2 separate regions of the Homo sapiens genome follow, and region 2 is linked to region 1. Evidence: fine-mapped QTL for protein levels in blood plasma. A gene starts in region 1. The other region holds a variant in brackets. All regions are shown on one strand. Distances are between the middles of the regions.

Region 1 (11,956 bases):
TTAAGTTATAAAACATTGTCAACACAGTGAAATCCACAGTATATCCCTCCCCTATGTCTTCCTCTGCTGCCCCTTAGAGGAAATCATGTTCCTGAATTTGTTTATTCCCAGGCACTTCCTGTACCATTACTAGATGTGTATTTAGTCCTAGGCAATACGTTATGTCATTCTGCATATTTTTAAGCTTTGCAAAAATGGTATTGTGCTATGTGTATTCTTCTGCAACTTGTAATTTTTTTCATTTCTATTATGAGATTTATCCCTGTTGGAATAGTAGCTCTGGTTCATTCATTTTTACTTATGTATAGTAGTCCACTCAATGAAAATAACACAATCTATCTATTTTCCTACGGTTGGACATTAAGGCTTTATCCTTTTTTCTTCTTTTATTTTTTTTGCCATTCAAACCATGTCTGTTATATATGTCTCATGGAGTGCAGACACAATAACCCTCTAGGATATATACTTAGCAGTGGATCCCAGGATGTACTCTCTTCAACTTCATTAGATACTGCCAAATTACTTTCCAAAGTGTGTCCACCAGCAAGTGTTTATGCATTTCAGCTGTTCTACATCCACACCAACACTTGATATTGACAGGTTTTTAATTTTTTAATTTCTGTCAATCTCAAGAGCATAAAAGAAAACTCATTTCTATATTAAATTGCATTTACCTATTTACCAGAAAATTGGAGCAATTTTTTTTTCTTTTACTTTTTTTGAGACAGAGTCTCACTCTGTCACCCAGGCTGGAGTGCAGTGGCGTGATCTCAGCTCACTGCAACCTCTGCCTCCCGGGTTCAAGTGATTCTCCTGCCTCAGCCTCCTAAGTAGTTGGGATTACAGGCACATGCCACCACACCTGGTTAATTTTTGTATTTTTAGTACAGACGGGGTTTCACCATGTTGGTCAGGCTGGTCTCAAACTCCCGACCTCGTGATCCTCCTGCCTCAGCCTCCCAAACTGCTGGGATTACAGGCGTGAGCCCCCACTCCCGGACTCTCTCTCTTTCTTTCTTTCTTTCTTTCTTTCTTTCTTTCTTTCTTTCTTTCTTTCTTTCCTTCTTTCTTTCTTTCTTCCTTTCTTTCTTTCTCTCTCTCTTTCTTCCTTCCTTCCTTCCCTCCCTCCCTCCTTCCTTCCTTCCTCTTTCTTTCTTTCCTCCCTTCCTTTCCTTTCTTTCCTCCCTTCCTTTCCTTTCTTTCCTCCCTTCCTTTCCTTTCTTTCCTTTTTTTGAGACAGGGTCTCATTCTGTCGCCCAAGTAACGTGATCTCACCTCACTGCAACCTCCACCTCCCAGGTTCAAGTGATTCTCCTACCTTAGCCTCCTAAGTAGCTGGGATTACAGGCATGTGCCACCACACCTGGCTAATTTTTGTACTTTTAGTAGAGGTGGGGTTTCACTACGTAGGGCAGACTTGGAGCAATTTTTCATATGAATATATGCTATTTCTATTCTCTCTTTTGTAAATTGCCTATTCTTCTTTTTGGCCATTTTTTTCTATCGAGTTATGTGTCTCTTTCTCATTGATTTCTAACAGTTTTTACATATTCTGGATACTGAACCTTTGTTGGCTATGTGTGTTGCCCATACTTTCTCCTGGTCTATGGTTTAACTTTTTACCTTTTAGGGTGTGTTTTAGCTTTCTTTTATACTTCGTGCTTTTATATCTCATTAAGAAACTTCTTTCTTTCTTTCTTTCTTTTTTTTTGGAGATGGAGTCTTGCTCTGTCACCCAGGCTGGAGTGCAGTGGCACGATCTCGGCTCACTGCAACCCCTGCCTCCCAGGTTCAAACAATTCTCCTGCCTCAGCCTCCCGAGTAGCTGGGACTACAAGCACACGCCACCACGCCTGGCTAATTTTTTGAATTTTAGCAGAGACGAGGTTTCACTGTGTTGCCCAGGCTGGTCTCAAACTCCTGAACTCAGGCAATCCACCTGTCTCAGCCTTCCAAAGTGCTAGTGAGCCACCGCGCCCAGCCTTCATTAAGAAATTTCTACCATGAATTCACAAAGGCATTTTCTAATATTTTATTCTTCAAGGTTTTAAGTTTTGCCTTTTCACATTTATGTCTATAATCCTCTTGGACTTACGTTTTCCTTTATGGTATGAAATAGAGATCTTTTTTTATCACATACATAATCAATTGTCCTTACCCCATTCATTGAAAAAATAATCTTTTCCCCACTAGCAGTAAGATAACACATACCAAATTTATATATATATACACACACACAGAGACACAAACATGGTATGTGTGTATATTGGTTGCCTATTAATGCACAACAACTTATTCCAAAACTTAGCAGCTGAAAACAATAAACATTTATTATCTCACAGTTTCTGTGGTTTAAGAATCTGGGAATGGTCCAGCTAGGTAGTTCTGGATCAGGGTCTCTCACAAGACAGTGACTAAGAGGTTGGCCAAAGCAGCAGTCATTTTGAAGCTCTACTGAAAAAGGACCCACTTGCAATTTTACTGTGTAGCTGATGGCAGGTGTCTGGCCTTCACTGGCTGTTGACCAGAGACATTGGTTCCTTGCCACATGCATCTCTCCTTAGAGTTGCTCACAACGTGACAACTTGCTTACCCTCCAAGTGAGAGATCAAAGAAAGTGACAGAGCTCCCAAGATAAGAATCACAACATTTCATTCTCTAATCTCAGAAATGACATGAAGTGACACTTTATCATGTCTATCATGCTCTTTGTATCAGAAGTGAGCCACCAAATCCAGCCCATACTCAAGGTTAGGGAAGCAGACAAGACTGTGAAGACCCGGAGGTGGGGATCATTGGGGTTATCTTAGAGTGGTCTACTACAGTTTCCATTTGTTGATCTATGCCAGCCTCCCTACCATACTGTCTTTTTTTTTTTTTTCATCCTGTCTTAATTACTGTAGCTTGTACAAAGTCTTGTTATCCGGTAGAGAATGTTCCCCTACTTAATTATTATTCAGTATATCTTTCCTATTTGGGGCCCTAAAAATAGAATGTAGAATCTGCTTGTTCATTTTAATTGAAAACCCCTGGGCCAGGCACAGTGGTTCATACCTGTAATCACACTTTGGGGAGGCCAAAGTGCGAGGATCACTTGAGCTCAGGAGTTCAAGACCAGCCTGGGCAACATAGTGAGATGCTGTCTCTACAAAAACTAAAATAAAATAAATTATCTGGTTTTGGTGGTGCATGCCTATAGTCTTAGCTATTTGTGAGGCTGAGGTGGGTGGGTGGGTGGATTGCTGGAGCCTGAGAGGTTGAGGCTGCAGTGAGCTGAGACAGCACCACTGCACTCCACACTGGGCAACAGAGTGAGACCCTATCTTGAAAGAAAGAAAGAAGAAAGAAAAGAAAGAAAGAAGAAAGAAAGAAAGAAATAAAGAAAGAAACAAATAAAGAAAGAAGAAAGAAAGAAAGAAAGAAAGAAAGAAAGAAAGAAAGAAAGAAAGAAAGAAAGAAAGAAAGGACTCTGTTGGGATTTTTATTGGAATTTCATTACATGAACAGATTAATTAGTAAATGAATTGATATTTTATGATATTGAGTCTTCCTATTCATTTACATGCTTTATATCTCACATAGTCTGAGAAGCTCACCAGAAAGATTAGTGCAAAAGGGCTGGGAACAGTGGCTCATGCCTGTAATCCCAGCACTTTGGGAGGCCGAGGTGGGCGGATCACCTGAGGTCAGGAGTTTGAGACCAGCCTGGCCAACATGGTGAAACCGTGTCTCTACTAAAAATACAAAAATTAGCCAGCATGGTGGCAGGTGCCTGTAATCCCAGCTACTTGGGAGGCTCAGGCAGGAGAATCGCTTGAACCCAGGAGGTGGAGGTTGCAGTGAGCCAAGATCACACCACTGCATTCCAGCCTGGGCGACAGAGGAAGACTCCATCTAAAAAAGAAAATTAATGCAAAAGAAGACAATTTGGGGGTCTTTTCAATAATTCAGTGGTAACACACAGTATATGGAGAGTTTGTGTATTGCTCCAATTCCCGAGTTTAAAAGGTTTAAGGTCTAGTTCCATATAGAAGTCCTGCAGTTCTAATAGACTGTGTTTTGATGAAATATCCTCAGTAAGTTAGTATGAGGTATGCACAACATTTCTGCTGAAATCCTTATCCTGCCTATCATTTTGCAGTGGACATCCATGGTTCAGTTTGCCTGGCAATCCTCCCTTCTCATAAGAACATCATCGCTCTTCTTTTAGGGAACTAACAGATCCTCCCCAAACTCCAATCAGGTGGTCCTAATCCAGGTTGCCAATCGCAGTGCTTCAATCACAGGAGTAAGCACAGGTCCTAGGCCAGGCCAATCACAGCTCCTTCTTGGATTTTCCAATTTGATAAAATCCAGGCTGGCTGGATAAAATCCAGAGGGAGAGTTTACTCCCACTCCTAGTGAGAGAACAGCTGCCAAATTTCTAGTCTTATGGAGCTGGTGTCTGACAAACTGAAGCTGCGATGCAGAAAAAAGCTGAGATGAGAGACGGGGACATCTTGGTGGTGGCCAGGTGGCTAGTGCCATATACATCCCTGCCCAACCTCATTTTGGTTAGGTGAGCACCAGTCATTCCCATTTATTCTTTTAACAACAGGAAGTATTTAATGAGCATCTACTATTATGAGCCAATCATTGAAGACACAGTGATGACTAAGCCTTCCAGTGAACACAAAATATATATTAATGTAAAAAGTACTGCAAGTTATGGACATTTGGAACCTAAGTAGGCAAACCATGACTTAAATCTCATTTAGGCTGGGCACAGTGGCTACACCTGTAATCCCAGCACTTTGGGAGGCTGAGGCGGGAGGGTCACTTCAGCCCAGGAGTTGAGACCAGCCTGGGCAACATGGTGAAACCCCCATCTCAAAAAAATACAAAAATTAACTGGTCTTGGTTTTGCAGCCTGTAGTCTCAGCTAATCGGGAGGCTGAGGCCAGAGGACAGCTAGAGCCCCGGAAGTCGAGGCAGCAGTGACTGCAGTAAGCTGAGAGCACACCACTGCACTCCAGCCTGGGCGACAGAGCGAGACACTGTTAAAAAAATTAAAAAAAAAAAAAAAAGAAAGAAAGAAAGAAAAGAAAAAAGAAAAAGGAAAAGAAAACTTATTTAATTCTCAACAAATCCTGTTAGGAAGCTCAGAGAGGGTCAGTAATTATTGCAAGTTTCTAGCGCTAATATATAGCGGAACCAAGACTTGAACATAGGTTTTCGACTCAACAATTGTTTTAATTACTCTGCGCTGCGTAAACTGAGAAACCTCTGAATCCTTACAATTTTAAAAGAACAACTTACAGTTTTCAGTTTCCATCAGATTCCAATTTTCTACCAAATTGCAGCCCTGAGGTATGAATGGTTACCAAACTTTAGTTAAACAAACAAAATTAGCTCATTAAGTAACAGAGAAACCACTCTGCCCAGCCTGCATTTTTTTTTTTTTTTTTGTATGAGTTTGCCTCCTTTATGCGCAAGGCTCCTTGGGAGTTGTAGTCTGAGGCATAGTCCTGTGGGTGGAGGCGCTGACTCACTGGGACCCAATCAGCAGAGAGTCAACTTGCTCTCCGCGCAGCGATTGGCTGGAAGTCAGCGGTCTCCCGCCCGCGGCGCCATCGCGCCATTCCTAGTTAAGGCGGCACAGGGCCGAGGCGTAGTGTGGGTGACTCCTCCGTTCCTTGGGTCCCGTCGTCTGTGATACTGCAGCGCAGCCATGGCAGAACCGCAGCCCCCGTCCGGCGGCCTCACGGACGAGGCCGCCCTCAGTTGCTGCTCCGACGCGGACCCCAGTACCAAGGTGGGCACAGGACCGAAGGGAACGGCTCCCCCAGCTCCGCTGGGCCGGGACCGGGCCGCATTCTATCCAACCCCATCCCGCCGCCGCTGCAGGTCCGCCGGCCTCGGGCGGACGGGAGTGTGATGGGAAGAGGGATAATGGTGTTTGATGGGGCGATCGTGGGGCCCGCGAAGTGTGGAGGGGATCTGTTGCCTCAGCTAGTTTCAAAGACTGCGACCCTGTTTTGAATTGGCTTGTTTATGTTGCGACGGTGGCTGGAAGCCAGGCCAACCCAGGGTCAGCTTTCCCAAATCAGTCGCCAAGGCCCACGAGAACAGTAGTTTCAGAACTCCCAGAAATAGGTTCAAAGATGCCTGTCCTGTACCAGTCCTGCCCAGCCTCGTTTTTCCTTACCACCCTGACTGCAGTCTTAACTCCTGCAAACTAATTTGATCGCTCTAAGTTTAACCGCGCCCAGAATTTCACTTTTGCTTGCTTGGCCTTTGCTGTGGGTCACAACAGCCCTTCTTGCCTTCCTCATCTTCGTGGGGCCCAGGAGAGATTACAGAATCATAGAGTTTGGATCTGAAAGGAATCTTAGAAATTCCTTCTCTTACCCTCTCGTTTTACAGTAATGACCCAGTAAGAGAAATGACCTGTTGCATACAAAGGCTTTCACTTACCGAACATGTCTTTACTGGGTAAGAATCAGTGTAACTCACTCAGGTGTGGTGTTTCGGTTGCCTTGTTAAGATCAGACACAGTTGGCGGGCGCGGTGGCTCACGCCTGTAATCCCAGCACTTTGGGAGGCCAAGGCGGGCGGATCACGAGGTCAAGAGGTAGAGACCATCCTAACACGGTGAAACCCCGTCTCTACTAAAAATACAAAAAAATGAGCTGGGCGTGGTGGCGGGTGCCTGTAGTCCCAGCTACTCGGGAGGCTGAGGCAGGAGAATGGCATGAACCCGGGAGGCGGAGCTTGCAGTGAGCTGAGATCGTGCCACTGCACTCCAGCCTGGGCGACAGAGTGAGACTCTGTCTAAAAAAAAAAAAAAAAAAAAATTCAGGCACAGTAACCGCTGTTTATTCCAGTGAAGTCATCAGTGTCTGTAAACACCTTTGTATTTATTTATTTGACTACATCATTTGTAAATTCCTTGAAGATTGAATATGTGCTTCGTGCAGACCTTTAAAAGGGGTAGATAAGTGGTCCATGACTCTGGTCCCTGCTTGTTCTTTACCTTCAGGGCAAAGAGTCAGACACATCTCATTGCTAAAACTTTTGACTAGCACCTGGTACTTGGCTTAGGAAAAATGTTAGTCATTGCAAAATTAAGGGGGAAGGTAAAAAAATTCCGTCATGCCCATCTCACTTGTATATCCCTTAATATTAATACCTGGTTTTTTCATATAATGTAAATTGAGTCACTCAGTGTAAAGTATTTTCCCAGATAACTAGGGGTTTTATGTAATGGGGTTTTCAAATAAAAAGGATTCCAGGGATATCTTTATAAAATATACTAAGTAAATGTCCTTGCAGCTTAATTTACATTCCACAGTATCTAAATTTCTCTTGATGATTCGGAGTAATTAATTTTGAGATCAGTAATTTTTGGCCATGGGAGACATAAAATGGAATACATAATAATAGCTGGTATATATTGAGTGTGCCAGGCCCTGGCTTGGTATTTTAAGTACATTGTTTAATTTAATCCTAACAACAACCCTATGAAGAAGGCATAATTATGATCTTCATTTTACAAATAAGGACACTCAGGCACATAGAGGTGTTGAGTGATTTGCCCAGGGAGGACCCCACACTTCCAACCTCCACCCTGTTCTGCTTCTGGGGTGCTGACTCCAGCAGTAATTTTGGAATTTGCCATAAAGGAAAATAAAAAACCTCAATGAAGGCTGGGTGCAGTGGCTCATGCCTGTAATCCCAGCACTTTGGGAGAGCGAGGTGGGCAGATCACCTGAGGTTAGCAGTTCGAGACCAGCCTGGCCAACATGGCAAAACTCTGCTCTACTAAAAATACAAAAATTAGCTGGGCATGGTGGCGGGCACCTGTAATCCCAGCTACTTGGGAGGCTGAGGCAGGAAAATCACTTGAACCCATGAGGTGGAGGTTGCAGGGAGCCGAGATCATGCCACTGCATTCCAGCTTGGGTGACAGAGTGAGACTTTGTCCAAAAAAAAAAAAAAACCCTCAATGAATTAAATTCAGTTTGATCACTTGATACATTTATGCTATATGTAAAGAAGATGGTAAGTACTTTGGGGATACTGGGATAAACAAGATGAGGTTCCCTCCCTTCACCAACTTATATCAACTCTAATATACAATGGACCTGGGGTTAGTGTGCTATTGAAATATAAATCACCCTGAGAGCACCCTGGGAGGTAGAGGTTTTTAAAGGTAGCATTAGTGGAATGGGGTATGCACAGGGTATTTGGAGCCTGAAGACCTGCATTTGAATCCCCACTTCTGTTGTTGGCTGCAGTGACCTTGCCAGGGCACTTGGGCTCAGTTTGTAGAAGGAGCATAAAGATATCTCAGAGAGCTGCTATGAGGATAAAATGACATGTATTATGTTCTCTAAACTATGAAGAGTGATACAATTCAAGGTTGTATTTCAGCTGTGGGGATCAGGGCACACATCAAAAAGATGGTGGTGATGGGCCTATGCCTTGATAGATTGGGTAGGATTCCAGCAGAGTACATGGGAAGGCATTCTGATGAAGGAAACATCTTAGCAAAAATGTGTTTTGATACGGGGGGAACCCACCCCAATATTTCAACGTAGGTTCTTTCTATTTTCCATAAGTATTGGCCAGCTGAGAAATAAAGAGTACAAAGAGAGGAATTTTACAGCTGGGCTGCCGGGGGGTGACATCACATATCAGTAGGACTGTGATGCCCACCTGAGTCTTAGACCAGCAAGTTTTTATTAAGGGTTTCAAAAGGGGAGGGGGTGTAAGAACAGGGAGTAGGTACAAAGATCACATGCTTCAAAGGGCAAAAAGCAGAACTACTAATAAGGGTCTAACAAAGATCACAAGGCAAAGGGCAAAAGCAGAACTACTGATAAGGGTCCAACAAAGATCACAAGGCAAAGGGCAAAAGCAGAACTACTGATAAGGGTCTATGTTCAGCAGTGCACGTATTGTCTTGATAAACATCTTAAACAACAGAAAACAGGGTTCGAGAGCAGAGAAGCGGTCTGACCACAAATTTACTAGGGTGAAGTTTTTTCCCCACCCTAGTAAGCCTGAGGGTACTGCAGGAGACGAGGGCGTATCTCAGTCCTTATCTCAACCTCATAAGACAGACATTCCCAGAGCGGGCGTTTATAGACCTCCCCCCAGGAATGCGTTCCTTTCCCAGGGTATTAATATTAATATTCCTTGCTAGGAAAATAATTTAGCAATATCTCTCCTACTTGCACGTCCGTTTATAGGCTCTCTGCAAGAAGAAAAATATGGCTCTTTTTGTCCGACCCCTCAGGCAGTCAGACCTTATGGTTGTCTTCCCTTGTTCCCTAAAATCGCTGTTTTTCTGTTGTTTTTCAAGGTGCGCCGATTTCATATTGTTCAAACACAGTTTTACAATCAATTTGTACAGTTAACACAATTATCTCAGTGGTCCTGAGGTGATGTACATCCTCAGCTTACGAAGATAACAGGATTAAGAGATTAAAGACAGGCATAAGAAATTATAAAAGTATTATTTGGGAACTGATAAATGTCCATATTAAAATGAAATCTTCACAATTTATGTTCCTCTGCCACAGCTCCAGCTGGTCCCTCCATTCGGGGTCCCTGACTTCCCACAACAGTTTTAGGATGGTAGAATTGCAATGCAGGGCAGGTACTGGAGAGTTAGTTAAATGTTATTGGTTGCAGTTCAGGTTATCTAAGCAGTGGTGGAAGAGGCTAACATGGTAGGTTGGGGCCAGATTGTGGAGACAGCTTTGAGTGTCACATCTAAGGAAGTTAGATTTTATATACATAGTGGGGAATGAGTCAGGGTTTTGAAGTATTCTATAAAGTAGATTGGAGGGATCCAAGTCTGGAGGTGATTAGGCCACTTAAAAAGCTCTTCCAGAAGGTGAGATAAGTGATATGAGGGTCTCGTTTGTAAAGAAGACAGCAGCAATGGCACAAAGTCGACTTGTTTTTTGATCATTTGCATCTTCATTATAAAGGAAGTCCAGAGAATGTATGGCTATGTCACATTTTGGGCAATCTCTCTGGGCTAACTTTCTTTAAAAGGTCAGATTCTCCTGGCAACAGAGAGAGACTCCGTCTCAAAAAAAAAAAAAAAAAAAAGGTCAGGTTCTCCTTCCAAGTAGTGATCTGGAGATCTTTTCTTTTTTACTATCTGTATCTGTCTCCACTAATACAGTAGACAATGTCCTCAGTGTTGCCATTATTTCTACCACCACTGCCAATGTCCATTTTCACATCGTTCCATATATAAATATATGAATATATAAAAATATAAAAAATTAATATATATTAATATATAAATATATCTATAAATATATGAATATATATATATATGATGGGGTCCCTCTCCAATCAGGTAGATTGGTGGAATTGAATGCAGTAGAAAGGAGAATAGGGAATGGAAAGGAGGAAGGAAGAAGGACAATGGCCAGATAAATGGCTGACTATTCAAGGCATAGAGAATCATAATATATATAAAGGCATAATGACATCAGAGAACTGAGGCAGGGACCTACGGGTAACACAGTGAATGAAGTTATAAGCAGTGGGACTTGAGGGAAGGGTGACCAAAACAATCATTAGGGTACTCAAAGAAAAGATGAGAATTCCCATTATATTCATTTGTTTTTCTCACCCTGTAATGGTTGCTATTTAAGTGATAAGGGTATGAAATAGAAAATGTTTGAGATGACCGGTTTAGGGGAGTGGTGATAACCGTTGGTGTTAGAGAAGTATGCAGCTACATATGTGGTTGCTTTTGGGACTGTCTCTCAAATGTGTTGAGGAACCACTGAAGTATTGATTTTTAAGCCAAAAATGACATGACAGGGTTTTCTTTATGGAAAGATCACTCCAAATTGCATGTAGATAAGCCTATGAAAAGCAAAGAGATAATTGTCTAGGCAGGAAGTAGTGAGGACTTCTTGCTTTCCTCAAGATACACTGAAGGCAGTTGAAAAGCTCATTTTTAAAAGTCTGGTGAAAACCACTTTGTTCACTTTTGTTTTGTGGGAGATGTGACACCTAGTAATAAAGAGTTAACAAACCCTTTCCCCTTTTATGAAAATTTGACTTTTCGTTAACTCCCTAGTTTCCCAGAAAACAATGAAAAATTGTGTTTGTTGCTTATGGTAAAAATAACCCAATTGGTAAATTGCATCTGGAGAGGGAGAATTGTAAATACTTGAAAGGAAGCCATAGCTTTGGACTTCCCTGATTGTAGTGACTCTTATAACTGTCCCTTGTGGAAATTCTAGAAGTTCTGCCTATGGAGTTGCTACTAGAGATACTGGCTCCTGTGGTACATGGGGCCTTCTGCCCTAGGGTGATTCTCATTCATATCCAGTGTGAATCTTCTCCCTGTACCTGATCTGTGTCGACTCCTGTAAGGACTCCCACTGAAGAGGAACACCTGATACTTCTTTGTTGGCAATCTGTGTTTTCCTAACAGATACCGTTTTGAGTAAACTGGCACCATGTATGGCCTATGGCTATGGTTGTCTTATAAGTCTGGATGTTTAGTTGAGCCTTAAGAAGACTTTCTGGGCCAGGCCCGGTGGCTCACGTCTGTAATCCCAGCACTTTGGGAGACCAAGGTGGGTGGATCATGAGGTCAGGAGTTCGAGACCAGCCTAACCAACATGGTGAAACCCTGTGTCTACTAAAAATACAAAAAAATTAGCCAGACATGGTGGCGCGTGCCTGTAATCCCAGCTACTCAGGGGGCTGAGGCAGGAGAATAGCCTGGGAGGCAGAGGTTGCAGTGAGCCGAGATCGTGCCATTGCACTCCAGCCTGGGCAACAGAGTGAGACTCCATCTCAAAAAAAAAAAAAAAAGAAGAAGGCTTTCTGTTGGGGGCAATATAACACTTTTGAAAGTTATTTGAGAGACAAAGTAGATAGTCTCTAAAGGGAATTGGTCTCAGTCTTATTAAGGTCGAAAGACAAC
Region 2 (11,956 bases), 20 kb after region 1:
TGTTCATAGTGCCTTGTTTTAATGTATACTTAGACCGGAATATGAAGTGGACATGGTCTTGCTGCTTTAAATTTTTTTTTTTTATTTTGGTATCACATCATGGCAGCCACAGAGTGACTTTATATATGTTCAACAGGAGAAAACCAAGGCCCAGCTGTGAGTACCAGGCCAGCACTTGGATGTGCAGAGCTACTTTTCTCTTTCTCAGCTGCTTGATAAAATCGAGACCTTTAGGACTGTAGCATCTGACTGAGAAAAGCAACCCAAATGTTCTAGAAACATGTAACCTGCCTGGCATGTGATTATAAGCTGCGAATAAAGAATTTAATTATTATATTTATTAAGATCAGTTTTAATAAGATAAAGTAGTTTTTAGGCTAGTTTTGTTTTAAATGAGAATTTTAATGCCTAAAAGAGTATGTTTCATTTACTTAAAATTTAGCAAAAGAGAAAAATATAATTTCCTAATGAGGCTGAATGAACTATATTTGTATTTTATATGATGTGAGTTATATAGGAGAAAGATGGCATGTGGCTCCAAAGTAAGTGGTCAGAATTTTCAGGCCTGTTTTGTCAAGCCATGGGTTTAACAGAAAAAAAAAAAAAATCTGTTAGGAAGCACCAGTGAGGTTCACAGACTTATGGTCTGGAAGGTACATACCAATGGTAAAGGGAGACCAAAACTTAGAGGCCTTAAACAGTTAATTACTCAGTGTCAGCTTCTCATCTACAACATGGGGTATGAATATCGACAGTAATACCATATAGAGTTATTACACCTAGTTAAGTCCTAAGTAGAATTATTAATGCTATTAATAATCTTAACTCCATGAATTTACATACCTTCTACCCTTTTCTCAGTCAAGCCTTCTGTTTCCTGATAAGTAAGTTGAATTTCCCAAAGGTGTTAGCAACAGTAACTTTTTACCCTTTTAGTTATTTAGGAGTCTAGGATCTTGTGAGTAACTCTTTGCTAATTTGCGTGGTCACCAGTAAATGGTTCTAGAAGGGCATTTATGCCTTCATTCAACAAATATTGTAGTGATCAACCTCTTTATGTGTAAAATCAGTGTCTTAGTTTGGGTAGCCCCAAAGCAGACTAGAGAGAATGGTGTGGTTTTAAGTTTTTGAGAAGTGGTCACAGAGAGCTCTGCAGAGTTAGGGAGAGAGGGTGATCATAGGTGTATACGAGTGGATTACCACTGTGGGCAACTGAGGTTCAATCCTGCTGGGGATTCTTTGAGGGACTTTGTGGTACCTGCCTCTGAATTGTCCCACCAAGGGACAGGGATGCCAGGTTTTTTATCGACCATTGGTTGAAGGTCATTCCTGCAGTGGAAACTTTCTGACACTTTGGACTTGCATCACACAGGGGCCTGCAACCAGAAGATACCACTGAGCAGAGAGCCCTTGCAAGTTGTAGGTGGTAGGTTAACAATTGTGTTTGTATCTTGTTACAGAAAGCACAATTAATGTTGGTAATAAATGGTAAAAGTGAAAGATGTTTAATATAAATATTTTTCCATAGGATTTTCTATTGCAGCAGACCATGCTACGAGTGAAGGATCCTAAGAAGTCACTGGATTTTTATACTAGAGTTCTTGGAATGACGTAAGTCAAGTACTTATTGGCACCTTAATGTTTAAATATATAGCTTTGCAAATCTAGAGAGTGTTTTCAGACCCATCTTAAAGTTTGTTTCAGAAGTAACAGAAGTTCTTTTGGCCAGGAGTCTGTGATTAGGCCTGGCTGGACAGGGCTTCTCTCGTAAGTTCTTTTTCTTCTCTATCCCAGCCAGCCTGAAAGGGCAAAACAAGACACAAATAGTTGCATTTTCTCCAGTCTGCCTTCTCTGAGCGCTCCCAGCTAAATCCTTAATGTGTTCAGACCCCTTTTGATGTTCTGGCCACTTTTAGCCTCTTGTTTACTTCAGAAAAGTTATAGATAATAAGAACTTACTACTCAGAAAACCAATGGGTTTACTTAAAACTGACCATCTGTTCTATTTTTCTAGGCTGTGTTTTCTTTTGCTCAACAGGTCATATCCACTGATCTTGCAATCCTAAAGCATACTTATTTTTCTAAAGCATGTTTATTTTTCTTTTTTTCTCCAGCTTTACTGAGGTATATTGAGAAATAATTTTGTCATATTGTTGATTTGTTTCCCTAAGTTATGTGAGCATTTTGCTTTTGAGCATATAGATACATGAATAATAAAATAATCTTTAAATTTAGTGCCTAGATAACTTCCATTCACATTGAGAGAAAAATTTAAGTAATATATGTCTATATTTAGAAAATTTGACCAGTTCAGAAAAATACAAAATGAAAAGTAATAGCTTCCCTCCCCAAGTTCTTCTCCCCAGAGATAACTGCTGTCCAGTTTCTTGTGATTTTTTTCTAGAAAAAGGTATTATGAATATATTTATGACATATTTAAAGGACAAAATGAAAACAGATTTATTGAACACTTTTGCCAGGCACTTCAAATGTTATTTTGTTCAGTCTTCACACCAGTCTTAGGAGGTAGCTTTTATCCCCATTTCACAGACGGAGAAACCAAAGCTTAATGAGATGAAGTTACTAGCTCCAAATCCCACAGTTGGCATATGGCAGGGCTGGAACCTGTATCCATTGTCTGATGGGCTCTAATGTAGACTTCCTGTGCAGAGCCCCCAAATAGGGTACAAGTTGACAGTAAGCTGGAAGATTTGAACAGCTGAGAAAAGCAAGTTGCAACAGTTTCATTTCCTTCAGTCCCAACTGATTGGTCCATGAGGGTTGTGTAGTCTGCTTTAGTAGGTGCAGAGATTGTTTTTCATGATTGGAGTATTTGAGGTGTTTGATACTTTATTATAAACATGTTAGAGTAAATCTTATTTGTGATAAGTCAATGCAAGGATCTAAGTGGGCCAAGGTCTATTATATAGCAGTGATAATGAAATAAAAGATTGGAAGCAGAACTCTAGAAACTTTCCATTTGCTATATGGCAATAACAGCCATTTGCTCTTATTGATTATGAACAAAGTCATCTTTGAATAATCTAAAGAAAATCATATATGCATTCTCATGCCACCTTACTCCTTGCCAAATAATCCTATACCATTTAAAGTCATTTAAGGTTCAGGACTTCAGTTATCTTTCTTAAAACCTCAGGATTCATAATTCATTCACTCTCTCTCCCATCAGTCTCTTCTACTGTCTCTTTCCCCTCAGAGAAGCGTAAGTCTTCTTTGTTCCAGAATATTTCTTGCCCTCTGCTCCTTCGCCTACCTCCCCATTGTCACTGCCATGCTTGCTACTGTTTTACCTGCTCACCTGCCATTCTCTCTCCCCAGTACAGTGTAATCCAGCTGATGCTTCCCCACTCTGCTGACATTGCTCTCATGGGACCTTTCCATATCTCATGACCTTTTCTTAGTCTTAATACTGTTTGACCTTTCTACAGTATCTGATACTGTTAGCCACCTTACTGTTGACATTCACGTCTTCTGTGATACTAGTCTGTCCTTCCTCCTTCTTTCTTACCACCTATCCTTAATTTCCTTTCCTAGATGTTTTGGCATAGTAAGAACTCAATAAATGTGTTTATTTAACTGAATGACATATTTATATATGTGTTTGTATGTGTGTATATATATGAAATAGCAACAAGGTTCTTTATATTTTTCAGTACAAATAAACACAGTTCTCTTTTGGAGATAGCCGTTTCTATTTATTAACAAGTACCATAATTTCAGCTAAATGTTACTATATTTACAGAATTGATGAATTACAGAAGTTTTCATTTTTGTATTTCAAATATTTACAGATGCATTTTTCATGATATTTTTTCACTGATTTTTCCTCCTGCTTATTCCATTAAAATAGGCTTACTACATATAGCTCTTCTTTTTAGTAAAACTTGAATATTAAGTTATGTTGATTATAGTATGAATTAGCCTTTCCTGTTGTTAATGATTCAGGCTTGTTGTTTTTTCATTGCAGGCTAATCCAAAAATGTGATTTTCCCATTATGAAGTTTTCACTCTACTTCTTGGCTTATGAGGATAAAAATGACATCCCTAAAGAAAAAGATGAAAAAATAGCCTGGGCGCTCTCCAGAAAAGCTACACTTGAGCTGACACAGTGAGTATGAGTTTCTATATTTATATATATTATAGATTTTTTAAGGTAGTTTTTAAAAATCTTTTTTGTTTTGTTTACTGACCAGTATAATTCAAACCAGATCTGCCTATGACTTCACATTTTTAATAATATATTGAAGTGTTTTTCATGCATCTTTTGATCTTTGTATTGTTCTTGGGCAAATGAGATGTGTTTTTTTTAGAGACAGGCTCTCTGAAGCCTCTAACTTCTAGGTAGTCTTCCTGCCTCAGCCTCCTGAGCACCTTGGACTACACATGTGTGCCACCACACCCAGCTAGTTTTTGTTTGTTTGTTTTTGGTAGAGGCATAGAGGCAAGGTCTCACTATGTTGCCCAGGCTGGTCTCAAACTCCTGGCCTCAAGTGATCCGCCCGCCTCGGCCTCCCAGACTGCTGGGATTATAAGCATGAGCCACCACGCCTGGCCCATTTGTCTTTTATTTTTATTTATTTATTTATTTATTTTTTGAGACAGAGTCTTGCTCTGTTGCCCAGGCTGGAGTGCAGTGGCGCGATCTCGGCTCACTGCAAGCTCTGCCTCCCGGATTCACTCCATTCTCCTGCCTCAGCCTCCCAAGTAGCTGGGACTACAGGCGCCCGCCACTACGCCCAGCTAATTTTTTGTATTTTTTGTAGAGACGGGGTTTCACCATGTTAGCCAGGATGGTCTCGATCTCCTGACCTCGTGATCTGTCTGCCTCGGCCGCCCAAAGTGCTGGGATTACAGGCGTGACCCACCACGCCCGGCCTCCATTTGTCTTTTAGATAAGAGAATATAAGACCCTGAAATTGTAAGATATTTGCCTGTTTGTCTCTAACTAATTTTTAGGTACTATAATTAGTCTTTCAGCATCCAAAATTTTGTTCTTTTATTATTTTGCTACATTTTGGATCCAGAAATGTGATATCATGTGTTCCTTTAAAAATTCTTCAAACCATTTTGTAATAATTAACATTCAAATTTGGTATTTTTATAACTTGAGCACTTAAAAATGTAGGCAATTTCTTTACATTGTTTATCTGCATACTTTAAAAGAGATTGATTTCAGAGTGTGTGATTTCGTGTGTCCCTTGATTCAAAATAAAGCTTTGGAATCAGGCAGGCTTAGATATGAGTCTGTGACTCTAAACAAGTAAGTGGCAGTTTCATCAATAGAATGGAGATGTTCACACCTAGCCCATGGAGCTGTTTTAAGGGTTTAAATGAAATATAAAGTACTTAGCACAATAAATGAGCATTATTATTATTCTTATTATTGTTCTTGTCCAGTACCTGTATTTACTGTCTCTTTAGTCTCGTTAAAATCATACTTTGGCCATTTGTCCTTTCTATAGTTGAAAACTTAATATTTTTGTAGCAGGGGTTAGGCCAATTATGTAAAGTAGCATATAAACGTGGTAAGATTTCAAAGATGTTACTTGCTTTTCAGAATATCTATTCCCTAGGACATTGTAGCTATGTTTTCCTTCCTTTTGTAGCAATTGGGGCACTGAAGATGATG[A/C]GACCCAGAGTTACCACAATGGCAATTCAGACCCTCGAGGATTCGGTAAGTTTGCCTGTTTTTATGTGATATATGTAGATTTGTGTGATTTTGTATTATGTATATAATTATGATTTTAATAAACCTAAAACATTAATGTCCTAATTAAGTATGATCAATTTATTAGAGATATGATTATTTTTATTTTCCACAAATAATCTTATTTAGGAGTTGTTTAATTTCAGAGTCTCGATCTAAAATTACACTTACCATCTCACCATGATTTACTTTTAAGTCTCAGAATTAATTTCCAGTAGACTTTTTTTTTTAAAAAAGCTGTAGTTAATACTAATCCCAGTTTCTGCTAGCACATACACTTCTGCCTTGATCTCCAGTCTCTCAATCAAGATGACAGTATTGCAGGCTTCAGCTGGCTGCTATAGTCAATGCCAACCACAAACCTATTAAGTATTAGTAAATGATTACTGTTTTTTGGTGTCGATTATTCTTAACTGATTAGACTGTATATGAGCTGATATTGATTAATTTTAAATAATTTATAATTCAAGGCAACTAATTAACTACTTATACCCAGCCCATTAGATCTATATTTGTTCTTTAATGTATTATAGATTTTGAACCTACCTAAGTCTGTTCCCAAGTGCCTTATGTTTTGAAATAAACAAGTTTTGGAATCTACTTGTGGTACTTGGACACCCTGTTATAATTATTTCTTCCTTCTCTCTGCTTTTTTCGGGGGGTATCACGTAAGGTCATATTGGAATTGCTGTTCCTGATGTATACAGTGCTTGTAAAAGGTTTGAAGAACTGGGAGTCAAATTTGTGAAGAAACCTGATGATGGTGAGTCTACTACTTACTGTGTTCAGGCCTGTCTTTAGTTGATATTTACTAACCACCTACAGAGGCCACTGTTGTAGTAAAACCCTTTTGGCTACAAGTAACAGAAGTCTCCACTTCAACCAGAGTTTTAAAAAAGAGAAATGATTGGAAGAATATCTGGGTATTTTAGGGAACTGAAAGACAGCAACTAGGGTGGCTTTCCAAGGCACTAGACACAGGACCTGGACAGCCATCAAAACCCTACGCTTCCTCTCCCACTGCCCGACCCCACCACTTTCTTTCATTGGCCACCAGCTTTCACTATTTCAGTGTATATCTTTCCGCCCAAAAATAAGTTCCTTAAAGTCCATTTTATCTGATGCTCATATAATGACACCAGCTCTCTTTAGTTTATAATCACATGGTATTTCTTTTTCATCTTTTATAACCTTTGTATGTCCTTAAGTTTTAGGTAGGTTTTTTGAAATAGCCTACGTATGGATTTTGCTGGGTTTACATGTATTGTTATTATTTTACTTAGATCTCTTTCTGAACTATTTCAAATTAAAATTGAAATATTAAATATTTCAGAGTCTCAATCTAAACATTTGAAATATTTCACTGTTTAATTTCAATCCTTTTTTAAAAAAATTAAAATACTTAATATCCAGTGCTGGGCGTGGTGGCTCACACCTGTCATCCCAACACTTTGGGAGGCCAAGGCGGGCGGATCACGAGGTCAGGAGATCCAGACCATCTGGGCTAACATGGTGAAACCCTGTCTCTACCAAAAATAGAAAAAATTAGCCAGGCATGGTGGTGGGCGCCTATAGTCCGCCTACTCAGGAGGCTGAGGCAGGAGAATTGCTTGAACCTGGGAGGTGGAGGTTGCAGTGAGCCAAGATCGCACCACTGCACTCCAGCCTGGGCGACAGAGTGAGACTCCGTCACAAAAATATATATATATTTAATATCCAAATCTTCTCCCCAATAAGAAAGGAATTTGCTTCACTCTGTCCTCATTGTGTCACTATTACCTAGAGTGGGATAGTATTGATTTTATTTTTTAAAGATAATAATAAATATATCACGGTGTTTGATCACTTTTTCTTCATATATCTCTTGTAGTGTCTCCTTTGAGACAGGATCTCACTCTCATCCAGGCTGGGGTGCTGCAATGGCACTGTCATAGCTCACTATAGCCTTGAAACTCCTGGGCTCAAACAATCCTCTGCCTCAGCCTCCTCCTAAGTAGCTAGGACCACAGGCACATGCCACCACACCCAGCTAATTGTTTTATTTTTTTGTAGAGATGAGTTCCTGCTATGTTGCCCAGGTTTGTCTCAAACTCCTGAGCTCAAGCGATTCTTTCACCTTGGCCTCCCAAAGCACTGGGATTACAGGCGTGAGCCACTATGCCCAGCCTTTTTAGCATCTTTTGGATTTTTCTGTTCTTTTATTTAAATACCTCAACCAAAATGGTCTTTAAAGGGGTTTTGTTTTTGTTTTTTGAGACGGAGTTTCGCTCTTGTTGCCCAGGTTGGAGTGCAATGGCACGGTCTTGGCTCACCGCAACCTCTGCCTCCTGGGTTCAAGTGATTCTCTTGCCTCAGCCTCCCGAGTAGCTGGGATTACAGGCATGCACCACCGTGCCTGGCTAATTTTGTATTTTTAGTAGAGACGGGGTTTCTCCATGTTGGTCAGGCTGGTCTCAAAATCCCAACCTCAGGTGATCCGCCTGCCTCAGCCTCCCAAAGTGCTGGGATTACAGCTATGAGCCACCGCACCCAGCCCTTTAAAGGGTTTTTAAGGCAAAACTTTTGAGATTCTGTGTAACTGAGGATGATGCCTTTATGTCTGAAGGACAGTTTTATGGAAAAGCCTAGGTTTAATTTCCTTCAGTCTTGAAAATACTCTTCTATTTTCTTTTTGCATATGATGTTGCTGTTGAAAAATCTGTCAATTCATGTTCCTTTGTATATTCTTCTGTTTTATTCTAGAAGCTTTTTATATTATTTCTTTGTCACTGCCTGCATTCTGGGAGATTTCCTCAAACTGGAATACCAATTAGCTAATTTTCTCCCAAATGTATCTGTTCTGATATTTAATTCATCTATTTTGTTCTTAAACACCTGTTATAATTTTGATCTCTAATTTTCGCTTAGTTTGCTTAATATGTTCTTGTTCTTTTTTTCATATTGGTAATATTTCATATTGTTTATTACTTTTTTTTTTTTTTGAGACAGAGTCTTGCTCTGTTGCCCAGGCTAGAGTGCAGTGGTGTGATCATAGCTCACTGCAACCTCAAACTCCTGGGATCAAACAATAATCCACCTCAGCCTCCTGAGTAGCTGGGACTACAGGCAAATGCCACCATGTATGGCTAATTTTTTATTTTTTGTAGAGACAGGGTCTTACTATGTATCTCAGGCTGGTCTCAAACTCCTGGCCTCAAGTGATCCTTCTGCCTCAGCCTCCCAAAGTATTGGGATTACAGATGTGAACCACCACACCCGGCCGGTCATTACTTTTACATGTCTAAATAGTCCTTGGGTCTGGGCATGGTGGCTCATGCCTGTAATTGCAGCACTTTGGGAGGCCGAGGCAGAGGATTGGGAGGTTCGGGAGGATCACTTGAGGCCAGCAGTTCAAGGCTGCAGTGAGCTATGATTGTGCCATTGCATTCCAGCCTGGGTGACATAGGAAGACCTTGTTTCTACAAAAAGGTTTTTTTTTAAATTATCTGGGCATGGTGGCACATGCCTGTAGTCTGTATGCCTAGCTACTCGGGAGGCTGAGGTGGGAGGATTGCTTGGGCCCAGGAGTTGGAGGCTGCAGTGAGCTATGATCCACTGTACTTCATTTCAGTATAAACGACAGAGCAAGACCCTGTCTCCAGAAAAAAAACAAAAATAGCTCTTGGTCCATTATTCTAATATTTCTTCTGTTTGAATCTACAGTCCATTGCTTTGGGGGTGTTTTATGGTTATGTTTCTCAAATTATTATTTTTTGCCTCTGAGCTTTTTTCCCCTGCAACTGTTCGCTATTCTAACACATCAAGCAGTGTGAATAGGAGAATGGCCAGATCCCTGTCCTTAACAACCCACATGATCTCAGGACAATGGGCTGGATAAGCCTAGGCCAGAGATTCCTAGGCACCTAGAAATGAGACTTAAATTTATTTCACCTTCCACAAAACACCTCTTCAGGTTGGATCTTCCCACTTCATCCCTCAGGGAAGAGTATTAGTAGGAGACACTTCCGATAGTGTTATTCCCTAGCCCTGGGCGTGGAGAGAGGGCTGGGGAGATCATTCGGCCCTACCAGTTTTTCTCAGTTTCTCACAAGCACAAGGCTCCTGCACTGCCCTTGTTTACTGGTAAGGACATCTGAACAAGCGAGAGGGCAGGTGCCGATGCACACAGCAGTGAGGGAGGAGCAAGAGCAAAACTCTGTTCTCTCGCAGCCATTATGCACTGCCTTCTGGTCCAGGCCAGAACTACCACCTCCCACACAGCCCAAGTTAAAACAGTCACCCGGCCCCATCCTCACCCATTCTCCCCAGCTGTCACCAGCCGGGTTTCTTTCTTTCTTTCCTTTTCTTTTCTTTTCTTTTCTTTTCCTTTTCTTTTCCTTCCTTCCTTCCTTCCTCTCTCTCCCTCCCTCCTTCCTTCCTTCTCTCTTTCTCTCTTTCTCTTTCTCTTTCTCTTTCTCTCTTTCTTTCTTTTTCCTGCATTTTCCATCTATGTTCCTCTAGGATTGATCTTGGAGAAAGGAGGCAGAGATAAGAGTCAAACCAATTCAACATAATGGTCCCCAAATAAATTTCTGAGGTCATATTTTTCCATTTAAGCAAACAGCTCTGACATACTAGACTCTCAATCTCAGTTTTGAATTCCTGGGAGAAAGACTCTCGCAGAGCTTGGGTTGCCTAGGATAGTATTTAAAAGGGTTTGTATGACCCAAGCATCTGGGTCTTTTGGTTGTGGGGGTAAGCCATGCTACCAGCTCCCTTCAGCACCTCCCTATTTTCTTTTTCTTCTTTAAAATAAGACAATTTCTGTAACTACTGAACTGGTAGTGTGGTATCATGAAGGTGAGGCAAATGCCTGATACCTAAAAGATGCAGCCAGTCCCACAGTTTATTTCAGGAGGGCTGGTATTTGCAATGTGTGCAAGATAACATTTTAGTCATTATGAAAAGTATGACTTTTCATACTTTTCTGACAATAAGAATTTTTAAAATTTAAAACTGTAAACAAAATAATGTACTTCATTAAAATGCAAAGTAAATCTTTAATTAATAAAAGTTTTTAAGGCCAGGTGCAGTGGTTTGTGCTTGTAATCCCACCACTTTGGGAGGCAAGGCAGGAGGATTGCTTGAGGCCAGGAGTTTGATAGCAGCCTGGGCAGTACATTGAGATCCCGCCTCTACAAAATCAAAAAATTAGCCAGGCAAGGTGGTGCGTGCCTGTCGCCCCAGCTACTTGGCAGGCTGAGCTCAGGAGGTCAAGCCTGCCTTGGGCCATGATCATCCCATGCACTCCAGCCTGACATTCAGAGCAAGACCTTGTCTCAAAGAAAGAAAAACATTTTTATGGTGTTTTCTTTTTTAGTCTTTTCAATAATGAAAATTTTCATTTTACAGGTAAAATGAAAGGCCTGGCATTTATTCAAGATCCTGATGGCTACTGGATTGAAATTTTGAATCCTAACAAAATGGCAACCTTAATGTAGTGCTGTGAGAATTCTCCTTTGAGATTTCAGAAGAAAGGAAACAATGTGATTCAAGATATTTACATACCAGAAGCATCTAGGACTGATGGATCACTGTCCCGATTCAAATTATTCTTCAGTCCATTTCCCCTTCCTATTTCAGCTGTTCCTTTTCACCTAACTGTTCAGTCATTCTGGTTTTCAAGCAGTGCTTTATCTCATGTCCTTGAATATAGTTGTGTAACTTTATTTTTTAGGTAATAATTAGAACAGTTCCCTTCAGAGGCTGCATTTGCCTTCTTCTGCCACCTAAATATTACTTCCCTTCAAATCTGCCTTTGAATCATCATTTTTAAAAAAAAATTAACATGTTTTTGTTGTAGTTATCTTCTGGGGTTTCAATTCCTCAGAAACAACTTTTTTCACAACGGAAAGGAAAGAACACTAGTGTTCTTTCAGTAAAGTACAAAGTGTTTATTTTACAAAAGAGTAGGTACTCTTGAGAGCAATTCAAATCATGCTGACAAGGATACTGATAGAAAAAGTGATTTCTTCTTATTATAAAGTACATTTAAAGTTCAAGGACTAACCTTATTTATTTGGGAAAGGGGAGGAGGAAGGAAATGATATGGTACCCAGACACTGGGCTAGGCTGCAACTTTATCTCATTTAATACTCCCAGCTGTCATGTGAGAAAGAAAGCAGGCTAGGCATGTGAAATCACTTTCATGGATTATTAATGGATTTAAGAGGGCATCAATCAGCTCAA

What was found. PIP is the posterior inclusion probability: the model's chance that the variant is causal. The UK Biobank Pharma Proteomics Project read protein levels with antibody pairs (Olink). The fine-mapping took linkage between variants from a reference panel, not from the people measured, so its PIPs are less certain.
Region 2: its variant is fine-mapped to the plasma level of the GLO1 protein (UK Biobank, PIP 0.97). The variant lies in the coding sequence of GLO1. If it changes the protein, the assay may bind it differently, which can mimic a change of level.

What each region holds. Positions count from the first base shown.
Region 1 is chr6:38,696,809-38,708,764 of GRCh38, reverse strand. GLO1 (glyoxalase I) reads left to right here and starts at 5,620. Exons shown (of 6, transcript NM_006708.3): 1 at 5,620-5,794. The coding sequence starts at 5,711. RefSeq lists enhancers at 5,344-5,503, 5,684-5,783, 5,804-5,853, 5,886-6,478.
Region 2 is chr6:38,676,547-38,688,502 of GRCh38, reverse strand. GLO1 (glyoxalase I) reads left to right here. Exons shown (of 6, transcript NM_006708.3): 2 at 1,529-1,611; 3 at 3,989-4,129; 4 at 5,628-5,695; 5 at 6,402-6,491; 6 at 11,120-11,956. The coding sequence ends at 11,208. Among named protein-coding and RNA genes, the nearest start is that of GLO1, 21 kb to the left of the region's middle. RefSeq lists a silencer at 7,063-7,275. The variant A/C (reference allele first, on the strand shown) is at 5,651.